3 linked regions of the Homo sapiens genome follow. The protein of the gene in region 1 interacts with the protein of each later gene in a pairwise test. Each region holds a gene or a part of one and is shown on either strand. Other genes may lie near its edges. The genes, in order: SULT2B1, FLACC1 and ACYP2.

Region 1 (7,467 bases):
CTTTGTATCTCAATTTTGATGCTCAATTTCGAAAAGGTACATTAAAATGGAATTAATTAAATGAAAATTTAATTTCATTTAAATTAATTAAAATGAAATAATTTTTTATTTTTTAAAAATTTTTAAAATGAAATAAAATTAATTCATTTTAATTAATTTAAATTAATTTTAATTTTTTTAAATTAAATTTATTTAAATTAATTAAAATGAAATAAAATGGAAAATTTTCACTTTCTCAGTCACATTGCACATAGGTGCTAAATAGCCACCTATGGCCAGTGGCTTCTGGGATGGACAGCACAGATGTAAGCCATTTACTTACATGTCTTGTTTGTGGACACAATATCAGAGACTGACCCAGAGGAGGTCTCTACAGATATTAGTTGGAAAAATAGACTATTGGATGCCTGGATGAATGGATGAGTGGATGCATGGATGGATGGATGGATGGATGGATGGATGGACGGATGGTCGAATGGATGGGTAGATGGTTGGATGGATGGATGAATGGATGGAGGATGCATAGAAAGATGGATGCATAGATGGCTGGTTGAATGGATACCTGGCTGAGTGGATGAATAGAGGATGGATGGATGGATAGAAGGATGGTTGAGTAGATGCTTGGATGGATGAATGGATAGACAGTGATGAATGGATGGCAGGATGGATGGATGAATGGATAGATGAAGGAATGGTTGGGTGATGGATGAATAAATGGCTGAATGAATGCAGGATGGATGGATAGATGGATGGTTGGATGGTTGGGTGGCTAGATGAATGGATGGAAAATGGATGGATGGGTGATGGATGGCTGGATAGATGGATGGTTGAGTAGATGGTTGGATGGATGAATGGATGGATAGATGATGAATGGATGAAGAGGTGGATGGTTTGATGGCTGATGAATGGATGGAGGGATGGATGGTTGGATGGGTAGATAGATGGATGTTGAATGGATGATTGGATAAGTGGTTGGGTGGCTGAATGAATGGTTGGGTGGATGGTCGGGTGGATGGATGATGGATGAATAGAGGGACAGGTGGATGCATAGATAGAGGGATGAACAGCTGGAGGGATGAATGGATGTATAATCCTTGCTCCTCTCACTACCCATGACCAAGTGGCTCTGGGTTTTCCACTTGCATTTTCCCACACTCTTCATCTTTTTTTTTTTTTTTTTTTAATTGAGACCGAGTCTTGCTCTGTTGCCCAGGCTGGAGCACAGTGGCACAATCTCGGCTCACTGCAATCTCCACCTCCTGGGTTCAAGCAATTCTCTGCCTCAGCCTCCTGAGGAGCTGGGATTATAGGCACCCACCACCACTCCCGGCTAATTTTTGTATTTTTAGTAGAGACGGGGTTTTACTATGTTGGCCAGGCTGGTCTTGAACTCCCGACCTCGTGATCCACCCGCCTGGGCCTCCCAAAGTGCTGGGATTACAGGCATGAGCCACCAAGCCCAGCCCACTCCTTCATCCTTCTGGTCTCGTCCTTGTCTCCCAGATGTCCAAGACCCTCAGATTCATTTCTGGGGGTTGATGGTCTCCACTAGTATCTCTGCACTCTCACAATTGGCTAAAATGTCACTCTGGTGTCTTCTGGTTCCTCCTTGCCACCTCTGTAGGAGTCTGGACCCCTCGCCTTCCAGAATCAGGCTTTTGCATCTCCTCAGCTCCCTCCTCATTCTCCACAGAGATTCAGTGGACTTCTCCTGGCACCACCATGACCTTCACTCATTCCATCACGTCTTCCTGTGACAATTCATTCATTCCATCAACAGGCACTTATTGAGCATTTACTATATTCCAGGCTCTTCCCTTGGGAAATAACCGCAGATTTGACATAGAACAAGCCCTTCTTTCATGGGGTTGACAGTCTAGTGGGGAGATAGATGGTAAACAAGACAAAGAAGCAAAACATTTAGGAGGTCAGATGGTGACGAGTGCTATGGGAAAAAGTAAAACAGGAAAGAGGAATGGAGAAGTTGGTGGACGAGCCTGGGGGAGGTGACACTGGGCAGAGTCAGACGATAGGAGCCCACGAAGCTCCCAGGTATCAGGAACATGCGGGAATAGCAAGGGCAAAGGCCCTGCAGTAGGAGCCTCCCCTGGGTCTTAGGCCGCCTAGTTTGGCCAGTTTCTTTCCATTGCCCACTCAGGCACAACCTCAGGCCCTACTGCTCCCCAACCTTCCTGTGCCCCGGGGATGCCTCCGCACCTGCCTGCGAGTTTCCCTCTCAGGATCCCTAAGGACCTGGGCATTCCCTTCCCCAGACTCTCCCTAACCCCCCACCCCAGCAGCACACAGAGCCAGGGACAAAGGGTCATTGAATAGAAAACAAAGGTGAAGACAGCCCAGCCGGAGGCCTGGTGGGGTGTCATGGTTCAGTCCCCCACCTCCGACATCAGAGGGGTTCACTCAGCCTCAGAGGGGGATGCCTGGCCCTCTCACCCTTCCACCCACCCTGCAAGAGAGCCTTTTTATCAGCAGGAACATCAAGGCTTAACACTGAAAGTATCAAGGCAGAATGTTGAGGATGTGGACTCGGTAGTGGCTGGGGGCAGGGGCGGGTGCTCCCACAGCTCAGCCTCCTGGAGACGGGTCTTGGGGTGGTGAATTGAGAGATGGGATACCCCAGAACCCTCCTTTTCTGCTTACCATCAGAGTGAAGGCGGGCAGTGCTGTGTGCCCTGGGGGAAGCCACATTACCTCTCTGGGCCCCCTTCCTGCATCTGTTAGGTGAGTCTGACGTCTTCCATCCCCCTCACCTATGCAACAATAATTGGTCAGTATATACAATTTTATTTGTTTTGGCTTTTTTTTTTTTTCTTTTTGAGATGGAGTTTCACTCTTGTTGCCCAGGCTGGAGTGCAACAGTACAATCTTGGCTCGCTGCAACCTCTGCCTCCAGGGTTCAAGTGATTCTCCTGCCTCAGCCTCCCGAATAGCTGGGATTACAGGCACCTGCCACCATGCCCAGCTAATTTTTTGTATTTTTAGTAGAGATGGGGTTTCACTATGTTGGCCAGGCTGGTCTTGAACTCCTGACCTCAGGCGATTCACCCGCCTCGGCCTCCCAAAGTGCTGGAATTACAGGCGTGAGCCATTGCACAGGCTTTCTTTTGGCATTTTTTTTTTTTTTTTGAGATGGAGTCTCTCTCTGTCGCCCAGGCTGCAGTGCAGTGATGTGATCTCAGCTCACTCCAACCTCCACCTCCCAGGTTCAAGCGATTCTCGTGTCTCAGCCTCCCAAGTAGCTGGGATTACAGGCACCTGCCACCACTGGTGGGGAGACTGGCTTCATGACTCCAGGACTCTGAGGGGTCAGGGACCAACAGCTGGGGAGGGCCAGGGTTTGGGGTGGGGGCAGAAGAGAAGAGAACACCGTCTATGCTGAGCTCACTGTGTACCAGATCCTCCACCAGCAGCTGAGAGTGTCTCCCTCAGTCCTCACAACAGCCCGATGGGTGCCATTCACAGATGGGGAAACTAAGGCAAGATGAGCCTATGAGCAAGATGGTTCCCGGCCCCACAGCTGGGAGGCACTGGAGCTGGGATTTGAACCAGGGCTGTGACCTTCAGACTCTCACGCCCAACCATATCTGGCAGTTGTCTCTCATATCTGTGTCTCTCCCTGTCCCTGACCTTTCTATGTATCTCTGTCTCTGCCCTCTGTATATCGCTGCTGGGTCTCTCAGGGTCTCTGACCCCTGTGTGTCTCTGTCTCCTCTGGGTGTCCGTGTGTCTCTGTCTCCGCCCTCCGTGTATCTCTGTTGCGTCTCTCAAGGTCTCTGGCCCCTGTGCATCTCAGTCCCCTCCTGGTCTCTGTCTCCCATGCCCTCTGCCCTCTCCCTTTCTCCCTGGCTCCCGCCCTGTCTGTGCTGCCGTGGTCCTGGCTGTGCCTCTGTCCCTGTGTCTGTTTCCAGGGTGCCCCTTACGCGTCAGCCCGTGAGGGCAAGTTTCTGTCTGCCCCTTCCCCAGCGGTGGCCTAGTGCTTGGAACAGCGCCTGGCAGACAGGAGATGCTCAGTAAATATTTCTCAAATGAATAAAGGAATGAATGAGTGAATGAATGAATGAATGAATGAACTCGCTGAGATGGGCGAGATCAGCGCCATTTCCCAAATGAGCAACGTGGGCTCCAGGTGGGTGCCCACAGGCCCAGAACTGCCAGCCCGGAAGGTTCTGGCGTGGGCTTGGCACTGACCCCCTGGACTCTGCCCCCAGCTGAGCACCAGACGCCAGGACGTGCCCATCACTGCTCCTCCCCGCCCTCAGAGCAGGGTGGCTCCCTCTGGCCTCTCCCCGCTGTTGGAGGCGTGGGTAGCAGCTGGGAGAACCGGCTGGGTGCTGCCCCTCCCCTTGGGCCGGGCACGGAGTAGGCACCTGGCGGGCTCCCCAGGTGGCAGACGCTGTCGCTGCGCACACCTGGCCTCTGTGCCGCCTGCTCCCTGCTCGTCCTCCCCTCCCCACCCTCACCCACCTGCCATGGACGGGCCCGCCGAGCCCCAGATCCCGGGCTTGTGGGACACCTATGAAGATGACATCTCGGAAATCAGGTGAGGCCCAGACCTGGGCAGGAGCCAGGAGATCCCAGGGAGGAGGTGGCTGTTTGGGGGAGCCGGGGACTGTGGCAAGGGTGGCCTCCAGCCACCCGCAGCCGCAGGCCTGGCCCAGACTTAGCTGGAGGGGCTGGGCTGGGCTGGGGCATCCAGTGTGGTGTATAGGTCCCTCCTGAGAAGGGAGTGAGGACCCGACCGTGTTGAGTCACCAGTGGGGATGCCTGGGGTGTCCCTGTCGCTCTCCGGGCCTCAGTTTTTCTGTCTGTCAAAGGGGCCCACAAGCCCTGTGTCTCCCTGATAGAGCAGTGGAAGAGAGCAGGCAGCTTGGTGCATAGTAGTTGCTCAGGAAACACAACAGCCTGTAGTACCCAGGACACCCCATGCAAGCCCTGAAATAACGGGGGTGCTTGGGGGTGAAATGGGAGAGACTGGGATGCTGCTGAGACCCCCAGAGGGAGAAGCTGTGTTCTAGGGCACTTGGGGCGGAGAGGGCAGGCTCTGGACTCTTCAGGTCTCCTAACAGTGGTTAGGGCAGAGCACTGCCCACTTCCATGAGCTCAGCGTGACTCCCTCTTCCTGGGGATGAGTCAGACACTTTGACAGTACCTGCTTTCCAGATGGGGAAACTGAGGCTGGGAGGGAACGCGACATGACCGCAATTACGCAGCTAGAAGCAAATCTGAACCCGGTCTGTCTCACGCCAGAGCCTGTGGTTTCTCCTGCTCCTCACAGCCTTGGTGATGTCCCCTTTACACCCCTCCCCGTGGCTCCATCTTTTAGGGGAGCGCAGAGGCCCAGAGAGGGCAGGCAGCCTGCCCCAGATCACACAGCAAACTGCTGAGACAATCTCCAACCCCTCGTATCTTGCACTCTTGCCAAGTGAGACCTTCCTGGCAGCCTGGGCCCCTCCAGCCACCGTGGGCTGTGAGGAGGGAGACAACCAAGACCTGTTCTCAGCCCAGTTGCCTCATTCCTTTCTTATTTTATTTTATTTTTTTGAAATGGAGTTTCGCTCTTGTTGCCCAGGCTGGAGTGCAATGGCACGATATCAGCTCACTGCAGCCTCCGCGTCCTGGGTTCAAGTGATTCTCCAGCCTCAGCTTCCCAAGTAACTGGGATTACAGGAGCCCGCCACCATGCCCGGCTAATTTTATTTTTGTATTTTTAGTAGAGAAAGGGTTTCACCATGTCGGCCAGGCTGTTCTTGAACTCCTTGCCTCAGGTGATCCACCTGCCTCGGCCTCCCAAAGTGCTGGGATTACAGGCGTGGGCCACCACGCCTGGCCGCCTCATTTCATTCCACTGTTTCAGGCCCTCCCCTCCCCTCCCTCAGCCAGAAGCTGGGGCATGAAGAGGCCTTCCTGGGTGCCTGGGACTCCAGAGACAGGAGCAGTTCAATCCTGATTGCTGTGTGACCTAGACAAGCTTCCTGATGTCTCTGGGCCTCCTGGGCTGAGAGCTGTGACCAGGCTGGCCCAGTTCTGCGTGAGGGAGGCCCCAGCATTCTTTACTCAACATTGTCTAATCCAGGACTTCTGAGTTCTGCAATTCTTCTCTCCAGAGATAAACAGATAAGCCAGCTCGCCTCCAGGGTTCCCGCCTCTGGGAAGGCCTCACCCCCACCCCAGCCAGGCACCTGGGAGCCTTTTTTTTATCTCCGCGACGGCTCTGCCAGCTGGTCATAAAACGCCCTGAGTGACCTCGCTAAGTGGGTGACCTTGGTTTAGTCACTGACCCTCTGCGAAGCTCGGTTTCGTCATCGTGGGGGAGAATAGCCCTCCCCTGCAAGACTCCTCCAGCCCTGATGGCTGCAGAGCCCTGGGGGGGTGCCCTTAGGACCTCAAACTTCCAGGCACTTCTGGAATCCCCCAGGCCTGGAAGCGTGCCTCTCCCCAGCGAGCCTGCTGGAGCATCCCCCTGGGGCCCACTTCCTTCGGGATGTGCCCCTCCCAGACCCCCTCAGATACGCCACGTACCCCCCCAGATTCGCACCTCCTCCCAGGTTGCCCATCTCAGGGATGTCCCCTCCCCATCACTGGCTCAGATCCACAGGGCTTCTCCTGGCCCCGACTTCCCCCTCTGCTCGCCCCCAGCCTGTCAGTCCCCAACCCCCACCCCTGTCCCCTGACTCTCTGCCCTGGTTCTTCCTCTCGGTTGCCACAGCCCCAGCTCAGGCCTCCTCATCTCCCCCCAACCTCACCACTCCAGCCTTGGCTGTCCCAGGCTGCTCCTCCCCTCCTCCCAGCCATCCAGTGAATTCCTCAGCGCCCAGCCCTCACCCACCCCGCCCCCCCAGCCTCCTCACCTGCATTCCAGCTACTCTACTGCTTTTTTTTTTTTTTTTTTTTTTTTTTTGAGACTGAATCTGGCTCTGTCACCCAGGCTGGAGCACAGTGGAACGATCTCGGCTCACTGCAACCTCCGCCTCCCAGGTTCAGGTGTATTACCTCATCTAATCCTCACAGCCATCTGAGATGAACCCACTTTGACTGCTGTCATCCTGTGTCAGAGATGAGGCCCAGAGAGGTTGAGTAACTTGCCTAGGGTCACACAGCTGCCAAGCAGGGCACGGCCAGGATTTGAACCAGGGAAGCCTGACTGTTATCATGCCCTGGACAGGGAATTTAGGGATGATGAGCAAGACCAGGAAGGAGCGAGATCCAGGAGGTAGACTCAGCCCAGATGGGAGGTGAAGCGGGCGCTCTGAGGTTCTAGCCTCCGAGTAGCTGGGATGACAGGCGCGTGCCACTGCGCCCAGTTAATATTATTACTATTATTTTTTTGAGACGGAGTCTCACTCTGTCGCCCACGCTGGAGTGCAGTGGCACGATCTCGGCTCACTACAACCTCGGCCTCCCAGGTTCAAGCGATTCTCCTGCCTCAGCCTCCCAAGTAGCTGGGATTAC
Region 2 (7,297 bases), on another chromosome or scaffold:
TGTAAGGGTACTCAGGATGCATATTGCACAATGTTCTTCAGCCACCATATGTAGCTCTTGCAAATACCATTCCTGTATGCGAATACCTGTGGAATTGCAAATTAAGGCATTAAAAGAAGCAAAAAATGGGTGCTCAGCACCACTGGAAAATATATTTCATTATGCACAAATCTTGCATTCATGCTATCTGAGAGGTTTTGACAGGTTACCTTTCCTCTTACCTTACTGCTGCTGCCCCAGTCTTTCCTGCACTCCAAAGCAGTGTCTGTGTCTGATCTCAGCAGCAGCATCACCCACAAACCTTTACAGTATTTGGGCACAGTCATCTTTTGTTTTGAAGGTAAAGGGTAAAAGATGTGGTGAAGCATTCCCTGAGACCTGAATGTGGTTAATGATGAGAGTGAATCTTTAGGGTTATGGTTCCTGCTGTTTCAGAGCTGAGCTCCAGATCAAGGGCCCGTGTGTTTTTGTTTTTGTTTTTGTTTTCTTCCTCTTCTGAGATGGAGTCTTGCTCTATCATCCAGGCTTGAATGCAGTGGCACGATCTTGGCTCACTGCAACCTCCGCCTCCTGGGTTTGTACAATTCTTCCACCTCAACCTCCCGAGTAGCTGGGACTACAAGCATGCACCACCACACCCAGCTAATTTTTTTATTTTTAGTAGAGACGGGGTTTCACCATGTTGACCAGGCTGTTCTTAAACTCCTGACCTCAGTTGATCCACCCACCTTGGCCTCTCAAAGTGCTGGAATTACAGGCATGAGCCACTGCACCCAGCCCGGGCCCACGTATTCTTGAACAAATGTAGGTTTCTGTGTGTGCCTGTCCTATGCAGAGCCCTCTAAAGCCCAGGGCTCAGAACAGTGGCCCCTCTTTCTAGGTGCAAGGGTAGCACTACAGGCTTTCACGGGATTCCTGTGGCTACCTGGTCGGGTCTATTCAGGATGATCCATGGGAGTTAGCATAGCACCACTCTAAAGTCAGATGTTGAAAGCCAAAGATCAAAGAGAGTTGAGCAAGTGAGCAAGTTGGAGATAATTACAAGCTTCTTAAGAGAACACTGTCTTTTCCACACTGGGAGTGTTCTCATAGAGCCACAAATAGCGCTCCACAGATGGAAAGCCTCCGAATGCTCCCAGCTGACCATGTTTGCCACTTCGTGAATGCTGCAGCATCACACAAGAGGATATCTATTTCCCCAAGCCCTGTGCAGACCAATTTTGATAATATTGCTGTCAGAATTAAGTTGCAGTTTCTCTCATTCATTTTTCAACTTATACTTTGTTTTACTATTGGTGGCCTCCTCCACCTCTGTTCCAAATAGTAAGACACTTTGCTTTAGGCGAAGTTACTGAGAATGCCAGCACTTCCCCAATTTCATCCAAGAGAAGAGCACTTAACACTTAGCCCCTAAACACCTTCATTTCCTTCTCCTCAGCTGTTTTGGAACTGGCGAAGCTTTACTCATGTCCAAAAAGATGAAAGGAGAATGGGGATACCCAAGTAGTAGTAATTAGTGCTGAGCCTTTGCCAAGTCGAGTGGCTGGGGTATTCCTTCAGCACTTACTTCCTCTGTATCTCTGTTTTTAGCCATGCTTCACTCAAGACCCAAATCCTGCTGCTTTTTTTTTTTAATCATAAGAAAGGATTTAAATATAAAATTTTACACATTAAACACACTCAAAGTAAATATTCAATCTCTGGATGGAGACAGATTGTCTAGATGACTAATAGAGTCTATCAATTCTTCTCTAAGTTATTTCCCTCCTTTTAATCTTTGAAAGTCTCTCTTCATCTAGCCTGTTCATGGTGCTCAGAGTTGAAGCAGCCATAGTGCAACCAAGACGCTTCCCTCCATCAACACACCGAGGCTGGCATAACAGAGAGATGGAAAGAGCCCAGTTCTCCAAGGACATTGCTGAATCTTTGCACCAACTCTGATAGCACTGCCTCCAGACTCTATTTCATGAGGTTAATAAACCTCTTTGATGTAAGCCACTTGCAATCAAGCAACAGGTCTATGCATTTTAACTACACATGGCCCACACTGAGAAATCTTGTCGTAAATACTGGTGTCCTCAGAGCTCTGTTCTAGACCCTCTTCTCTCCTTACACAATACTCTCTCTATATGTGATCTCACTCGCTCCCTTGGCTTGGAATAGTATCCACTCTGAAGACTCCTAAATCTGCTTCTAGGCCAGAATCTTCCTCTGAACTTCTAAAATATGTAAGAAACTCTAACAGACGTCACCACTTGTCTATTAGTCTCCCTGCACCTCAACATATCCAAAACTGAACTAATAATCTGCTCCCTAGAACCTGTTTATCCCTCCACACTTTCCTATCTCAATAAATGGCACCACGGTCAACTCAATTGCTCGAGCTGGAAAGCCAGGAATCATCACCTTCTCCTTTTCGCTCATCCCAGCATCCAGTCAATCACCAAGTTCTATCATGTCTTCTCTCCATCCCCACTGCTGCTCCTCAGTCAGGGCCATCGTCAGGTCCCATGACGACCACTGCCACAGACTTTTACCTGGTTTTCCTGGCCCTTCCAATTGCTTCCCTATATTGCAGTCAGAATGATCTTTCTGATATGTAGATCTAGTCAGATCTCTTCTCTGTTTAACACTGCTGCCTGACTCACTGGACTAGAAGAGTAACTCCTGCTATGAACTCCCACTGCTTCTGGCAAGTCTCAATATGAGTCATTGTGGCTGCATGGTGACTTACACCTGTAATCCCAGCACTTTGGGAGGCCGAAGCAGGAGGATCACTTGAATTCAGGAGTACAAGACCAGCCTGGACAACATAGCAAGGCCTCATGTATACTAAAAGTCAAAAAAATTAGCTGGGCGGCCGGGCGCAGTGGCTCACGCCTGTAATCCCAGCACTTTGGGAGGCCGAGGCGGGCGGATCACGAGGTCAGGAGATCGAGACCATCCCGGCTAAAACGGTGAAACCCCGTCTCTACTAAAAATACAAAAAAATTAGCCGGGCGTAGTGGCGGGCGCCTGTAGTCCCAGCTACTTGGGAGGCTGAGGCAGGAGAATGGCGTGAACCCGGGAGGCGGAGCTTGCAGTGAGCCGAGATCCCGCCACTGCACTCCAGCCTGGGTGACAGAGCGAGACTCCGTCTCAAAAAAAAAAAAAAAAAAAAAAATTAGCTGGGCATGGTGCTGTGCACCTGTGTAGTCCCATCTACTTGGGAGTCTGAGGCAGAAGGATCGCTTGAGTCCAGGAGGTCAAGGCTGCAGTGAGCTATGCATGCAGCCTGCACTGCCACTGCCACTGCACCGCAGCCTGGGTAACAGAGTGAGCTACTGTCTCAAAGGAAAAAAAAATTAATTATGCTTTTATTGAGCTTTTTTATTGTCTGTTTTCTCATTGGTCTCTAAGTTGTATTGAGTATAAGAACTGAGGTATATCCCCACACCTAGCAATAGTGCCTGGCACACAGTAGACAACAAATGTGAAGTTGAGTGAATAGATGAATTTATAACAATATTTTGTAAGCTAGGGGTTGTGACCCACCAGGATCATGAAATCAATCTAGTGGATTATAATCAGCTTTAATTTAAAGAAGAAAAAGAAATAGAAGAGAATAGCAAATAATAAGAGTATTATTTCATGAAATTTTTTTATTACAAAATTTGTAAAATGTATTTCTTATAATGAGTGGCAGTAAAACTAAAATGAAAGCCACTGGGTTGTAATAAGCAAGTACTTTTTTCTATAGTAAGAAAAAGCAGCTTTATTTAAAAAAAAAAATCGGAAAACCTTGTGACTGCAAAAGATTCCTGCCTTGGGGGATTTTTACTTTCACAGATTTCAAAGCCTTAAACTCGAGGGAAAAAAGTGTCTAGAGTTTTAGGTTTCTGTGAGTAGATCACAGAGGAATTAAAAATCCATCACAGATCCTGCCTGGTAACTATTGCCATAGACCAATGAAGCCTAAAAGTGCTGTTGAATTCTATTTCCTCTGAAGATATATCTTAAACTTTTTTGTCCCATGACTGATGACGAAAGTGGAAATCCAGTGTTAAAAGTATGAATTCTTTGCTGTTGAGGGTGGTCACTGATTTGTGTCTTGGAGAATTTAATTGGCTGTTTCTCCCAACCTTCTCTCTTGAAGAAAAGAGCCCTGAGCCAATGAGGAGCTACTGTTCTGTGTCCATAGCAACAAAATAAACAAACTTTGGCCTGCCATCTCCCAAGGGCAAACCTCACAACTCAGGCCCAAGTCACAGGAATCTGAATGGTGGGGTGACCTTCTCCTCTAGTTTAATTTCATTGCAATACTGAGAAACTTCAACTGTTTTGTCTTTAGAAGGGAAATTCATGTTTGTGCCAGGCCAGCCTTTGTAAAAGCCTTTGATTGGATTCACTAGAAGTCTGTCTTCCCGCAGTACATATACTGTGAATTTTCTCCTTCGGCATTTCAACCACTTGGAATGGCCACTAAAGTGGCTTTTGATCTAAAGTAAACTCTGATTCTGTGTTGATGGGGAACCATTTCTCTCTAACATGGTGGTTTCTTTAAGATGTTTGACTTGGGCCACATGAGAATAACAGATCTTTGGGCAGTCCAAGGTAAGCTCTTTGGAAAAGATGTTTTATATTATTTTTTCTACTGATTATTAATACTAACCAGTAACTTCTCTGAAGCCTCTGCCGGCTCACTGGTGACTATTGTTAGGGCAAGCCTCAGGTAAAATCATCAGGTAGAAGTGCAGGAAAGGGAAAAAAGGGGGAGAAAAAATCCTTACACACACTCACACACCCCTCTATAATTAGAGCTATATGATGTCAAGCCACTGTAAATGCAGATCTATCTGTGATGACATGGAAATATCAACTAGATATCCTGTTACACAAAAAGAACAAGATGCAACATTGTGTGCAAAGTATGCTCTCACTTATGCAAATAATTTAAAAAATCTATTATGCTTCTCTACAGGTTAAGTTCTATATGCAAAACATTTAAGGTTATATGCACTCACAACATTTCTGGAAGGATGCCCCAAAAATCTGTTAGAAGTAGTTCCCACTTAAGAAGCTATGAGAAGTCAAGGGCTGATTTTAGCTACTGAAATATTAAAATACTGCCATATAGGCAGGGCACGGTAGCTCACACCTGTAATCCCAGCACTTTGGGAGGCTGAGATGGGTGGATCACCTGAAGTCAGGAGTTTGAGACCAGCCTGGCCAATATGGTGAAACCCCATCGTTATAAAAATACAAAAATTAGCCAGGCATGGTGGCGGGTGCCTGTAATTCCAGCTACTGGGGAAGCTGAGGCAGGAGAATCGCTTGAACCTCGGAGGTAGAGGTTGCAGTGAGCCAAGACCACACCATTGCACTCCAGCCTAGGCAACAAGAGCAAAACTCCGTCTCAAAACAATAATAATAATAAATAAAATACTGTCATATTGATTGGTAGATGACCATTGTCCAAGCCCCTTGCATGTCCTCCTTGCCACCTTGGTTGTCCCAACTCCTCCCCTGGCACCCCCAGACCACCTCATGATTCAGCAACTAAGGGGTTAATGCCTGGCATGGAGGTGGGAGTGAGATCTCCCAGGACCCTGTTCCAACCCTGGTTGATTATTCAATAGCCTTGTCTTACTGGTTGTTAAATATTTTGAGTATCACTCCCATGGGTGTTCAAAGAAAAAGGCCTTTATTTTTATTTTATTTATTTATTTATTTTTTAGAGACAGGGTCTTGTGCTGTCACCCAGGCTGAAATGCAGTGGTGTGGTCCTAGCTCACTGCAACTTCAAACTCCTGGCCTCAAGTGATCCTCCCGCACCACCTGCCAAGTGGCTGGGACTACAGGCACACTCCACCATACTAGGCTATTTTTAAAATTTTTTGTAGATACAGAGTCTCGATATGTTTCCCAGGCTGGTCTCAAACTCCTAGCCTCAAGCGACTCTCCCACCTCAGTCTCTCAAAGTGTTGGGATTACAGACATGTGCCACCACACCTGTGAGGCCTTCTTTTTTTTTTTTCTTAAGAGCAAAAGAATATATACCAAGACATTGTTTATCATGGGAAAGAGGAAAAGGAAACAACTACACATTCATCAAAGATCATTGAAAATCTATGTAAAACTCCACTGAGTGATTGTATCACCCATACAATTTACCTCTGCTTTCTGGCTTTTGAATGCAAATGTTTAATGTTATTTATAATATGGTAATGACGATTACAACATTTTGGCAGTTTCATCTGTGAATCTCTTTTCTCTTTGTTTTTGTTTTTTGTTTTATTCATTTATTTATTGAGACAGAGTCTTGTTCTGTCATCCAGGCTGGAGTGCAGTGGTGAGATCTCGGCTCACTGCAACCTCCACCTCCCAGGTTCAAGTGATTCTCCTGCCTTAGCCTCCCGAGTAGCTGGGATTACAGGCATGTGCCACCATGCCTGGCTAATTTTTGTGTTTTTAGTAGAGACGGGGTTTCGCCCTGTTGGCTAGGCTGGTCTCGAACTCCTGGCGTCAAGTGATCCTCTCGCCTTGGCCTCCCAAAGTGCTGGAATTACAGGCATCAGCCACCATACCATCTTTTTCTCTTTGTTGAGCTAGCCCCAACCACCATGATGAGCTGATTACAACCACTAAGTTTACTAGTCAGGTAAGAAATATTCATCAAATGCCCGTTGTGGACAAGCCACTTTGCAAGGCTTAGTGGAGGTGTTGAGGCACAGAGAGCACTCCATAGTGGAGTCCTGGCCTTCAAGAAGAGAGAAGGCAGTTGCTAGAAGTGGGCCTGCCTTAGCCTCTCACTTCTTGCCCCATGGACTCCTGCTAAATCTCCCAAGTTCAGGGTTGGCTCCTTTCGTACAGGAAGCAGATACAAGGTTCTAAGCAGAAGCAGTTTCTTTTTTGCTACTGTTGTAGCCTTCTTTCAGACTCTCACCTGAATTCCAGCCCCTTGTAGCATCATCTTCCCACCTGGGCACTCGATCCCATCTGCTTCTCTGACCTCATCTCCTTGACTTGGCCCTAACAGGCCCCCAAACCCAGTGGAGTATGGACAGTTATAAATGGCGGCCCTGTCACCTGCTCTTCAGGCCTTTGCTGTTTAGCCAGTCTCCTGGACTCCTTTCTAGCCCTGGACTCCTTTCTAGCCCTGACCTCTATTGCAGAAGACTCCCTAGTCCCAGGCCTCTGGCCCAGCCAACCCCTGCACACGCTGCCTTTCTTCCAAGGCCAGGTCTCTTGCCTTTGCTCCACTGCTCACTTAGCTCTCTTTCTGCCGACTCCTCTGCTGACTGCAAGCTCCCTGAGG
Region 3 (7,706 bases), on another chromosome or scaffold:
AGTGGAATTGTATAGTTAATAGAAATATATAATGTAATAGCAGATAACATCTTATAATGGGAAAGCACAACTTTTAAAGTCAGAGAGATGTAGAATCAAATCCCATTTGTCAACTAAGGGCTTGTCCAAGTTACTGAATCTCTGTGCACCTGTTTTGTCCTTGTTAAAACAGGAATAAGACATGCATCTCACAAAATTGTGATGATTAAGTAAACAACAGTGAAATGCTCAGCACAAAGAACACCCATAATAAATGTCACACATTCACACACACACACAGACTCCTTCACTACTGCCATTTGTCTCTAGTGGACCATTCTGTCAGGTGATCTTTGCCACCACTTTCGTATTTTACATTACGTGTTTTGGTGACTTATTGTGGCAGTTTTCAAAGCAGGATAACATACCGCTGGGTTCACTCAAAGACTTTCTAAAGAGTACAGATCCATGCATAATGTTCAGGGAATCAATTTCCAGATCTTCAACTTCCACATATATTCCTTCCTAAAACTGACCTGAGACTCCTTTCCTACCTCCCTTTGCACAATCATCCTTTGAAAGAAAGGTCTCCTGTTATCCTAAGTGAAGTAACTCATGAATGGAAAACTAAACATTCTATGTTCTCACTTCTAAGTGGGAGCTAAGCTATAAGGATGCAAAGGCATAAAAGAATGATACAATGGATTCTGGGGAGTCAGGGGGGAAAGGGTAGGACGGGGTGAGGGACAAAAGGCTACACATTGGGTACAGTGTAAACTGCTTGGGTGATGGATGCACCAAAATCTCAGAAATCACCAGTAATGAACTTATTCATGTAATCAAACACCACCTGTTCTCCAAAGACCTATAGGAAATAAAAATAAAATTAAATTAAAAAAAGATCTCTTTACAAAAGGCACACTTTTACCCATTCTTAATCTTACCCTGGTACACTGCACCAAAGTGTAAAAACCTCTAGAGTACCAAATACAAGGATAATTCAACTCTTCCACCAACCGAGGTTCCATAAACACCCCCAGTCTTCTCATTAATAAATTTCTGGCTGAGTGCAGTGGCTCACGCCTGTAATCCCATCACTTTGGGAGGCGAAGTGCAGGAGGATCCCTTGAAGCCAGGATTTCGAGACTTGCCTGGGCAACAGAGACCCTTTCTCTACAAAAAAATTTTAAAAATTAGTCATGCATGGTGGCATGAGCCTGTAGTCCCAGCTGCTTAGAAGGCTGAGGCAGAAGATCACTTGAGCCCAGGAGTTCCAGGCTGCAGTGAGCTATGATTGTGCCATTGCACTTGCTCCAGTCTGGGTGACAGAGCAAGACTCCATCTCTTAAAAAAATAAAATTAAAAAAATAAACTTCTAACACAAATTTACCTTTAAATTTTAATAATGTTTATCATACTTTTTATATTTTCATCTAGTGTTCTAATAATAATTTCAATAATAACTCCATCCAGACAAAAAATTTAATACTTGGAGCTGTTGAATACAATGAGTTCTAAATTTCTCTTCAAAGAATCAGTATGTCAGTATGCTCGGTTCTTTGCGCTCTAAAGTCTAGCTTCCTCGTTCTCCTCGCCTCTAGTTTCAGTAAACAACCTTTTCCACCAGTTCTAATCAGTAGTTCACCTCTATTCCTCTGGTCACCTGCTCCATCCTGAGTCACCCCTGGTCACCTGCTCTGACCTGAATCATCCTGAGTCACCTGTTCTGTAACCACCCTTCCTGCCAAATTATTCACCCCGCCACTTGAGCTCGTACGCCTGCTCTTTAAAATAGCCAGTCGGAATTAGCTTAGACTGTGCGGTCCAACCCTAGCCAGTAGGGGAAAGACACAGCAGTAGAGGCTACCTGCATCAGGAATAAGAACCCCTTCCCCTCCCCTGTTCAGGTGTGCCGTTGCCATTGCTTCATCCGCGAGTCGCACCCTTCTATAGAGGTAAAATTGCCTTGCTGAGAAAATTCTTTGAGCGCTAGTTCTTCTTTTTGGCACCAAAGAACCAGCATTTGTTTCTAAGAGAGCCTTATTGTCAAAGGAAATTAAGAAAAAGCATTACACTTATTCATACATGTGCATATATGTACATATACATATTGCAGAAAAGTATGATAGGGTGAGCAAAAAAAAAAAAAAAACCCTCAAGCAAAACAATGGGGTAATTCGGTGGGAAAAGTGAAATGAAAATCAAATTCAAAGAGGAAAAGAAATGAGTAAAATTTCCCATTGTTGAAGAGTTTTATTTTAAATGAAGATGGTGGATGTTAAATCACTACCCTATTTATATTCCATTGCATAAATCTCAGAGTGACTTAATATTTTCATTTATAAATATCAATATTTTCAACAAGCCAGACATTACAAACTTGGCAACTACTTAAACTTAGGATGAAACAAAAATTAGATAACAATTTCATTCTTTTAAGAGCTACAAAGAGGTCTAAAAAAAGGTTTGACCTCTGAAAAATTAACCTTAAACCATCTAAGTGTCCTTCCTAAAACTCAAGTCAAGCCCAGGTAGCTTCAGTGGCAAGCAACGAGACCACTAGTTAAAAGACCCTCTTCTTTTCCTACCCAACTTCAACATTCCCCCGTGCCGCTTACTCCCGCACCCAGCAGCCGCCCACTTCTGGTCCTCAGCAGTCCCCTGACCCCTCCTCTCCCGCTCCCCCACTTCCCTCCCCATTCCCGTACTTCCGCCCGTCCAAGTCCTCGGGCGCATGCGCGTTTCGCCTCCCTCCCCGCCGCCGCTGCTGTGTCATGGCGGAGCGGAAGTCCCAGCCACAACGGGAAAAGGCATACTTTAGGTGGGAGGCGCTTCTCACAGCTTTCTCCCCTTCCTCCCATAACCTTTTTGATCTCCCACCGTAGAGGGGCCTCCTACCCTGCACTCTTCCGAACACCTCGTAGTCCACGGATTTGAGTGACTGGGCGGTAGACATGGCGGCGGCGAGCCCTCTGTTGAGGAGCCGGAGAGGGGCTCGGGGCGCAGCGACTGCGGCGGCTGCGAGAGGGAGGGGACACATGGGACTGCTTGGCGCACCCCGCGCCTGTCACCGGTCCCGGACGCTAGCGCGCCGGGGTCACGCGTCGGAAGCGGCAAATGAGACTGCGGGGCCTGGGAGCGAGGGCAGCCGGGGACGCCAGGAGGGAAGAGGCCGCTGGGCCCCAGGCATCCTAGGCCTCTCTTCCCGGACTGGGGAGGATGCTGTCTCCACAGCGCTCCCTACCATTTAATTGATCAAGGTACTCTGTTCTCAAAGTTAGTAAATAAAAGCCGGATGCTGTGCCCAAAAAAAGAGTGGCTTCCCCCAGCTTTATTAAAGTGTAATTGACAAATAAAAGTTGGGTATATTTGTGGTGTACAAGGTGATGTTTTGACATATGTATGCATTGTGAAATGATTACATCAATGAAATTAACGTATCCATTGCACCATTTTTTAATGAAGAGAACATTTAAGATCTACTCTCATCAATTTTTAAGGACACAATACATTTATCGCAGTCACCATGTTAGACAACAGATCTTCAGAACTTATTATTCACACTAACTGAAACTTTGTACCCTTTGACCAATATCTCCCCATTTCCAACCCCTTTCATCCCCCATCCCAGGTCCCCCACCCCACTCCATCCCAGCAAGATTGGCTTTTGAAATCAAGGGCCTGCGTGTTTAGTGTTTTGAGAGTTAGTAAATTATTTATGAAATGTTTAGGTGACTACCAAGCCAGCTTTTAAGATAAGGTCTGCAACATCTTGAGCTCTTCTGTACAGTCAGGAAGGAATTGAGCCTGAACTCGTATTCTAAACGGATTGTGATATTTTCTGGGATAAGAAACTTTTTAAAAATATGAAGTCTTTTATGCTAGTGGAAACAGACAAAAGAAAAACACTGTAGTCATCTTGTCTGCTGTTCATACAGTTTTTTTGGTGTGGGTTTGTTGCTGTTGTTTTGAGACGGAGTTTCGCTCTTGTCTCCCAGACTGGAGTGCAGTAGTGCAATCTCAGCTCACAGCAGCCTCCACCTCCCAGGTTCAAGAAATTGTCCTGCCTCAGCCTTCCAAGTAGCTGGGATTACAGGCATGCGCCACCTCACCCAGCTAATTTTTGTATTTTTAGTGGAGACGGGGTTTCACCATGTTGTCCAGGCTAGTCTCAAACTCCTGACCTCAGGTGATCCACCTGCCTCGGCCTCCCAAAGTGCTGGGATTACAGGTGTGAGCCACCACACCCGACCTTTTTTTTTTTTTTTTTTTTTGATTGTCTTGATTATTCTCAGCAACATCCCAATTGCCTAGAAGGTTAAGGCTGAATTTTATTTCCTGGTGAGCTATTACCAAGTTTTAATATAAAACCATCCACCACTCCAAAGGATCTGGATACAGCTATTGATAATCTGCCACCTTCTAGAATTCCAAATCTGTTTACTTGTGAGAATTTGCATTTCTCTATTTGTTGGCCTCAATACCTTGGCATATTTCTCTGCATCTGGCCACACAGTTAAAATAATCCACTGCAATCTGATTCAATATACTGTGCCAATTCTATTAGAGAACACCAAAAATCATCCAAAACTTGGTTAGAATATGGTTAAATCATTTTTAAAGTAAAATATATTCTGGAAATGCTAGTGCAGTTAATTTATGTAGTGAAGGTCTTAGTTTATTGCAGAGACCTCGTAACTTAACTCTTCCATCTCCCAGTTCATTCCATGCAGACTCTAGAATCAACATAAATTTTAAATCATTCTTCTTAATACGTTCAAAATAGAACCTAAGGTCTTCAGCCTCCACTACCTGCTTATGCAAATCCTGCATTTAAACTATAGTCAAGACACTCTCGGTTATTCTGCTCTCTCAGTACAGAGGTTTAAAACAAAGAACCTCTTCTCTTGGGTCTACTCTATCTGGAATGCCTCCCCCTTCTCCAAAATCTTCCTCTATCCCGCTCAGTCATCTCTGCGAGTGGTTACCAGATTTTATCCTAGTTATTTAGTGTGCCTTCCCCACTAGTACAGTCAGCCATCCATATTAGCAGGTTCTGCATCCATAGATTCAACCAACCTCAAACAGAATTTTTTTTTTTAAGTATCTTGGCCTGCACGGTGGCTCACACCTGTAATCCCAACATGTTGGGAGGCCAAGGCTGGCGAACAGCTTGAGCCCAGGAGTTAGAGATGACCAGCCTGGACAATACAGTGAAGCCCCGCCTCTATAAAAAATACAAAAATTACCTGGCTGTGGTGGCCTGTGCCTGTAGTCCCAGCTACTTGGGAGGCTGAGGTGGGAGTAGGATCACTTTTGCCCAGGAGGCAGAGGTTGCAGTGAACCGAGATGGGGCCACTGCACTCCAGCCTGGGTGACAGAGCGAGACCCTGTCTCCAAAAAAAAAAAAAAAAGTCATCTCTACTGAACTCATGCAGACTCTTGTTTCTTGTCATCATTCCCTGAACAATACAGTATAATAGCATTTACATCGCATTAGGTATTTTAAATAATCTAGAGATGACTTAAAACATACAGGACAATATGTGTATGTATGTTTCTATTAGGAACTTGAACATTCCAGGATTTTTATATCCAAGGGGATTCCTGGAACCAATCCCCTGCAGATAACAACGGACAACTATAGCATAGCTTCTAAGTAGTCACTGACTGGGAAGGTTGACATTTTCCTTTTCTTAATCTTTGACTTTTCTCCACATTTACCCAAGAGTACCCCTGCCAATTATTAGGTAGGTTTATTTGAATTTTAGAAGTGCTATAGCAACAATTGACATTTGCTTAGCTGAAAAATTTGCTGTGTCTGCCAGCAGTCTAACATTAGCAAACGGAAATTTTTATGTACCATTTCGGCATGGATTGCCAATAATATGTGATTCTAAGTCTTTAGAAAATGTACGCAAATGTTTCTAATATATGTTTTAAGTAATTATAGTATGAATGCAACTTTTATTCTTCTTTTCCATGTTGTAGTCTTTCCAATGAATATTTTAATAAATCACATTAGGTGGATAAACCACACATTTACCTACTGTGAGTCCCTGTTGTTACATATTCAGGCTGCTTCTCATTTTTCACTACCATAAAAAAGAAAATATTTATGCATGTAGCTTCCTTCCCACATATTTTTAATTGAAGTTGGAATATCAAATCAAGGGTATAAGCATGTATTGTTCTTGATATATATTGCCAAACTGTTTTTCGAAGGGCTGTGCCAATTTAAATATATTACTACCAAGACTGTATATGATTATTTGGCTTTTTATACAAACAAATGTATGCAGGTCCTTCACGTACAATGCATGATTAAATTATATGAAGCTTTGGTTTTGTAACCTGAGCAACAGCTTTGGAATAACTAGGCTTTGTGTTACTACTGGTTGAAATTAAAACCTGTTAATTCCCTTCTTTGAACCCTTTAAGACAATTGGTTTGTGATCTAGGATCATGTTTAAGGTAATACATAGAAAGGGAAAATCCTGCTTATATAATATGACTGTAAAAGATGACCAGGCACCAGAATCTGTAAAATAAGCATAGATAATACACATTTACATGTGTGTATTATCTATATATGACAATAATACATATGATAGATAATACACATCTCTATATGTGTATATCTAATAAGGATAGATAATACACAGAACCTGTGAAATAAGGATAGATAGTACTCTGTGTCCAAATGACATTTGAAGTGAGGAGGTACCGCCTGTAACTCTCAAATTCATCACCACATGGGGTCATTTGAAAGTGATTGCTAGAGTTATTTCTCAGAAATTTGATATTAAGATATGATTGATTTTAAGGACAAGCAAAATTACTTTATCCATCGGCATATTTCTATCCCTGAAATATTTTTGTAATCATTATGTTGAAAGTGCAGGACCCAACATGATACAAATTGTTAACTTCCATTCAATGATTCCCTGTGGAAGGAATACTTTATAGGTAAAATAAATGCTTAATTATTACTAAACTGGATTCAAAATTATTAGACAGCAGACTGTTGGTCAGCTGAGCAAGTAGCTGGTTTCCCAGAAGAGGCTTTAATCTTATTACAAGTTATCAGAAAATTGCTTAAGCGTTCTATCAGCAAAGCAGATTTCTTTCCAGAAGGAGATTCTGTCCCAGGTTTGAACCAATTTTTCTTTGTCACAGTCCAATTTAATATTAAAAAGTCAGAAGGATATGTAACATTAAAGTGTCTTCCCTCTCCCAGCTTGGTACTGAGTATGCTGAAGTGAGGAGAGGGCATGGTTGGTCCCCCCCGCCCTTGCCTTAGTTTCCCCCTACCTAGCTGAAAATGGGAACAAACAAGTACTTTTGAAATCCATTTAGGCTCTCTGGGAATGGTGAATATTCAAAGCTGACTACTTATTTTGCAGGATTCTTTTTGTAGGGACTCAGAGCTTCACCCCACTTGGAATTCTTGACTGCTGCTCCCTTGTTAGGCTATGCCAGTTCTCTCTACAGCCGTATCCCAGCTTCTGTATTAAGTGCCCCATCCCAGCTTCTGTATTAAATGCTACACCTCCAACCTCTTTCTGCTGAAAGAGACTAGCCCCCAGCAAGAAGGCCATCTGGGTGGGATCCATTTTAAACTGACCACAGGACCACATCCCTCCCTCCCATCATATCTAGTTATGGAGGCTCATATCTCTGCCCTACCAGTGATAGAAGTCACAGATTGCTCTGAACTCAACCAC

The links.
Region 2: the proteins of SULT2B1 (region 1) and FLACC1 interact in binary tests that used the Homo sapiens proteins (3 or more experiments, as listed by UniProt).
Region 3: the proteins of SULT2B1 (region 1) and ACYP2 interact in binary tests that used the Homo sapiens proteins (3 or more experiments, as listed by UniProt).

What each region holds. Positions count from the first base shown.
Region 1 is NC_000019.10:48,547,766-48,555,232, forward strand, and holds the start of SULT2B1 (sulfotransferase 2B1), read left to right. Parts: upstream 1-4,406; 5' UTR 4,407-4,487; coding exon 4,488-4,558; intron 4,559-7,467. UniProt on the Homo sapiens protein: Sulfotransferase that utilizes 3'-phospho-5'-adenylyl sulfate (PAPS) as sulfonate donor to catalyze the sulfate conjugation. Responsible for the sulfation of cholesterol.
Region 2 is NC_000002.12:201,354,278-201,361,574, reverse strand, and holds the start of FLACC1 (flagellum-associated coiled-coil domain-containing protein 1), read left to right. Parts: upstream 1-4,229; 5' UTR 4,230-4,593; intron 4,594-7,297.
Region 3 is NC_000002.12:54,110,928-54,118,633, reverse strand, and holds the start of ACYP2 (acylphosphatase-2), read right to left. Parts: upstream 3,020-7,706; 5' UTR 2,936-3,019; coding exon 2,878-2,935; intron 1-2,877. UniProt on the Homo sapiens protein: Its physiological role is not yet clear.